Linked DNA regions of Homo sapiens: region 1 is linked to region 2. The links come from fine-mapping of genetic effects on gene expression. Tissue or cell type: whole blood. Region 2 holds a variant in brackets; the other region holds the start of a gene. All regions are shown on one strand. Distances are from middle to middle.

Region 1 (2,681 bases), 41 kb after region 2:
AACGCCATTCCCCTCCCCCAACCTCCACCCACCCCGCATTGTAAAGGCGTTGCGCCCGGGGTTAGCCTTTAGGGTGGGGGTGTCAGCTGGTTTCATGCCTCCTGTTCCTCTGCCCTGCGCCCTGGCCCAGTCATTCTCGGCTCGAAGTGTTCTTCTATTCAGTGAAATACCCAGGAGGCCTTCCACCCAAGCGAAGGCGAGTATCAGACACGGGCTACCACCCTAGTAAGAAGAAGGCACCTGCCCACGTATAGTTGGAATTCATCTAAAATTCACTTAGTGCTTACTGTGTGCCAGACGCTGAGGGGCGTCCTGCAGATTCAAAAGCGCCCCAGGCCCGGCGCGGTGGCTCACGCCTGTAATCCCAATACTTTGGGAGGCCGAGGTGGGCGGATCACCTGAAGTCAGAAATTCGAGACCAGCCTGGCCAACACGGTGAAACCCCGTCTCTACTAAAAATACAAAAATTAGCCGGGCGGGCCGGGCGCGGTGGCTCACGCGTGTAATCCCAGCACTTTGGGAGGCCGAGGTGGGTGGATCACGAGGTCAATAGTTCAAGACCATCCTGGCCAATCTGATGAAACCCCGTCTCTACTAAAAATACAAAAATTAGCCGGGCGTGGTGGCGCACGCCTGTAGTCCCAGCTACTCGGGAGGCTCAGGCAGGAGAATCGCTTGAACCCAGGAGGCGGAGGTTGCAGTGAGCCGAGATCGTGCCACTGCACTGCAGCCTGGCGACAGAGTGAGACTCAGTCTCAAAAAAAAAAAAAAAAAAATTAGCCGGGCGTGGTGGTGCGCGCCTGTAATCCCAGCTACTCGGGAGGCTGAGGCAGGAGAATCACGTGAACCTGCGAGGCGAAGTTTGCAGTGAGCTGAGATCGTGCCATTGCCATTGCACTCCAGCCCGGGCGACAGAGACTCTGTCTAAAAAAAAAAAAAAAAAAAGCGCCCCAGATACGGCCCCTTCTTCCAAGAAGACCCAAAGCTGGCAGAGCTGGGCGGGACAGCCGCAGAAGGGGAAGCCAGGTGAGAACACCAGCACCGGCCGAGGGCTCCGTCCCGAAAGGCCTTCCCCGCTGCTGCCCGGCTTACTCTCGAAGGGTCCAGCGCCCAGACCGCCCTGCCGGAGGGGTCCGCGCCCCCAGGCCGGGCCCTCCCCTCCCCGCCCGCACTCACTGCGTCTTCCTGCGGCCCTGGTCGCGGTGCAGATCCCGCAGGTCCACCTCGGCGCGGCCCAGGAACTTGTCGAGGCCGAGCAGCGCGCGGTGCAGCACGGTGAGCTGCAGGGTGGCGGCGGCCGCGGGTCCGGAGGACAGCAGCGATGGCAGCTCGAAGGTGGCCTCCTCGCGCCACACGGGCGCGCCCAGGCTGCGCTCCGACACGGAGGTGGCGTACTTCTCCTTGCCCACCTGGATCACCGCGTACGCGTCGCTCGTGCCCCCGGGGCCCTTGGCCCGCAGGCCCCGCGCCTGCAGCACCGTCACCTGCACGTGGGTTGGGGACCACACGGCCCCCAGGCCCCGGCCAGCCGAGACCATTAGGGACATGGTGACGATAACACTCCAGAAGCGAGGAGAAGATCGCCGCGACTGGCGGCCTCCACGGCCCGCCCCGGCGACCAGGCCACTTTAAGGCTTCCGGCCACACCCCCGCCAGGCCACGCCCCTCATGGCCAAGGCCACGCCCCTGCCCGAGCCGCCTGCTCCACCTGCTGCGCCGCGCCCCGCCCCGCCCCGCCCCGCCCCGCCGGCCTCAGCAGCGCGGGCAGCTCCGGGCACCCGGGCGCCGGAGGCGGGGCTGGCGCGGCCAGGCAGGCAGGGGATCACGTGCGCAGGGGCGGGCGCATCGAGAATCTAATCTGAGAGGTGGTAGGTGACGGATGGGGTCCCCAGCTGCCAAAGGTCGCACGGCGGGAAGGAGCTGGCCGAAGCACTGACTTGGAAGTCAGACCTCATTTCCAGGGTCACATCGCCAGTCGTGGCCTTGCGCGGATTACCTAACATCAAGTCTCAATTTCTTCACCTGACAATCACCTCCTAGGATTGCTGTAAAAAATAATAATAATAATGCATTACAGTTCTTGGCCCAGTGCCTGGCTCATGGTGAGTTCTCAGTAAATAACCATGACCAGCACGTTGGGAGGCTGAGACAGGAGGATCTCCTGAGCCCAGGAGTTCGAGACCAGCCTGGGCAACATAGCCAGATCCCCGTCTCTACAAAAAAAATTAAAAATAATTAGATAGGAGTGGTGGCAAGCGCCTGTGGTCCCCGCTACTTGGGAGGCTGAGTCTGGAGGATCTCTGGAGCCCAGGAGGTCGAGGTGCAGTGAGCCGAGATCGTGCCACTGCACTCCCAGCCTGGGCAACAGAGCAAGACCCTGTCTCAAAAAAATAAAGTTGGTAACTATGAGGGTGCTAAGGAAGATGCCCACCCAATTCACTGTGCTTTCTACTTCTCCCGCTGGAAAGCCTTGCTCTGGAGGAAGGCAGCTGCAGAGGAAGGTGAGGACCTTGTGAGGGCCGGAAAAGGGGAAGGTATCCTGGGGAGCATGAGTTCAATGTGGGAGTGTCCTATTTTGCCCTCCCCCCACCAGATAAGGCGAGGCTGAGTTAGAAAAAGGGAAGAAAGGAGGAACTGAAAATGGGATTGCCAAATCAAACATCGGGACAGTGGCAGGCCCC
Region 2 (2,681 bases):
AAAAAAAGAAAAATCTAGAGTAAGTGAGCAGACAGGGGAGTGGAGGAGGGGAACAGCGTCTATTGCTCCTCCAGAATGGAGCACAAGGGAACTCAGGTCACCTAAGAACAACTGGGGCCCACCTAGCCGAGTGACTGGGTGCCTCTAGACCTTTGGGGCTTGACTTCGACTCAGAATTCTGGATTTGGGAAAGTTCACCTTTTATGTTGTTCATATATCCTATAATTATTTCCCTTATTTTCTTGTTTTTTTTTTTTTTTTTTGAGACAGAGTCTTGCTCTGTCACCCAGGCTGGCGTGCAATGGCATGATCTTGGCTCACTGCAAGCTCTGCCTCCTGGGTTCAAGCAATTCTCCTGCCTCAGCCTCCCAAGTAGCTGGGATTACAGTCATCCACCACCATGCCCGGCTAATTTTTGTATTTTTAGTAGAGACGGGGTTTCACCATGTTGGCCAGGCTGGTCTTGAACTCCTGACCTCCAGTGATCCATCCGCCTTGGCCTCCCAAAGTGCTGGGATTACAGGAGTGAGTCACTGTGCCAGGCCTGGTTTTTTGTTTTTTTTTTAAAGCTTTCCATTACTAGCTGCTGGGCTAAGGGGACTCAAAAGAAAAGATGGTTGTGTCTCCCTCCTTGGGCTGGAATTTGAAAAATATAATAGCCTGGCCCTGAGGGCTGGGTTTGGTGGCAATAGCAGGAACCAAACAGAACTCCAAAGCAAGGGGAATAAATCTGAGAGAGAAAAGTTGGGGTCATTTGTGTAATTAAACTTTCCTTCCTTGAAGACCTTCCATTTAGAGGGTTGTTTTATTAAGAGATTTAATAAATAAAATAAAATTTATTAAGTGTCTTCATGTCACTACACATGGCAGTCGATGTCCACTTGGAATCACCAGGCCTCTCCACCAAAACCAGGGAGGCCTTCAGGGAAGCTCCCCCATCCCAGCCCAGGAGTCTCACAGGCACCGCCTGCCTCTGTCTCTCTACAATGTGACTCATCTCTAAGAGCAAAGGTATCACTTCCATTCCAAGAGGTCTGGGACCTTGGAGTGTGGACCACGTGCACCGCTCGCGGGGCAGGCACACCTCTCACCTCCTTGGGAAAGGCCTGGGGTTTGGAGAGATGAACTCCAGGAGACTCCTGTGCATCCCTAATACCCTCTATTCACACATGGACAAACTAAGTCAACTGAACAAGGACCTGGTTCCCAGATGGGGCAGTTGAGCCCAGCCTGAATTCAACTCATGCCCCCAAAGTGAAGACATCACTCTGTGGGAACCTGTGTGTGTGGTGGGGGTGGGAACTGAGGAAAGACCCTGTCCAAATGCTCAGCCAAGGGTACCGGCTGCAAAGGAAAAGGGGGCAGCACGTTCCAACTCAGTTTCTCTGGCCAGTGCCATGGTCCCTCAGGCCAAGATGAAGGGTGCATCCGAAGGGACCAGACATGTCCGTCCTCTTTGAGAAAAAGGGC[C/G]TTGGGACTCCTGGGAACCAGGCAAGATGGCAGCAACAGAAATCCCAGTGAGAGACCCTCATGGGATGAGAAACACTGGTCATCCCCCCACCCCCACCAAGAGAGGTTTTCCAGGAAGACAAAATAAATTTTTATTGCACCCATACCAAACTACAGACACAAATCTTTGAAAGGTAAGTACCATTTTATTTAGTGTTGTAGGAAATGTTGGGTTACTTCTTAAAAACGAAACCAAAGAAATTCAAAAGTCCCAAAGAAAGAAAGCAGGAAATAATAATTCTATAATCCAAAAACGTTGGGCGATCCTTCAGTTGGAGGAAGAGGGCGTCAGTTAAGTAGCTCACACAGTAGATATGGAGACACCATATGGAGATACGGAGTTAAGTTTGGTGGATACTAGGAATTAAGTTCTCCACCTAAGGCAATTAATTTTTCAGCCTTGAGAGATAATTAGTAGTTCTAGAAAAAGAAAAAAAGTTGACTGGGAGAAGGGTGGGAGGGAGGATGGTGCGTCATTTAACATTAAATTGCCTCTCTCTACAGTATGTGGCTGAGCATCATGGACCTTCCTCCCTCTGCCCCGTTGAGCTCCCACTGTTAGCAAAACTGAGAAGCACATGCCTGTGTCTTCTTCATACCGGCATGTGCACACACACCTGTATCTCCTTCATACAGGCATATGCAGAGCCCTCACCAATCGGGGTCCACAGCTGTTCAGTATGGCAAAGGGCAGACTTACTCCTTCATCCACTCTGCTGCCTTGATGAGGTGAACACACTGGAATAAGATGGAGGGCAGGATACCTGCCAAAGCCTGAGGCATGAGATGATCTGAAACAATTGGGCAAAGGCTGGACATTTCAAAAAGCTGACTTCCAACTGCAGTTTATGGGTATAGAATTTGATGCTTCCCTCAAGTCCTGACTGCTCTTTCTGAGGCAGCCAGGCTAGGCCAAGAAATGAGCTGCTCCAGCTTCTCCAGAGCACAGCAGCCTCCCAGGGCCTGTCAGCATCTGCAGCAGCTGGAAGGAGGTCCCAGCTCTTCTGAGACATAGGCCATTTGTAGGATTCTCCAGTGCTCCAATTCACTAATGTCTCCTAATGGCTCAGAACAGGCTAAAGCTTCTCCCAGATAACCCCTCCCCCAAAACTGAGTCCTCAGGGACAGTTGTTAACTGAATGACCTCCAGGTTATCTACTTTGGGAGGTGCA

Evidence for each region. PIP is the estimated chance that this variant, and not a neighbour inherited with it, causes the effect.
Region 1: it holds the start of RAB11FIP1, and the variant in region 2 is fine-mapped to the expression of RAB11FIP1 in whole blood (TOPMed, PIP above 0.99).

Annotation. Positions count from the first base shown.
Region 1 is chr8:37,897,895-37,900,575 of GRCh38, forward strand. RAB11FIP1 (RAB11 family interacting protein 1) reads right to left here and starts at 1,603. Exons shown (of 6, transcript NM_001002814.3): 1 at 1,177-1,603. The coding sequence starts at 1,547. RefSeq lists silencers at 988-1,417, 1,638-1,867.
Region 2 is chr8:37,857,314-37,859,994 of GRCh38, forward strand. It overlaps RAB11FIP1 (RAB11 family interacting protein 1), which reads right to left. Exons shown (of 6, transcript NM_001002814.3): 6 at 1,305-2,681. Among named protein-coding and RNA genes, the nearest start is that of BRF2, 8.8 kb to the left of the region's middle. The variant C/G (reference allele first, on the strand shown) is at 1,471.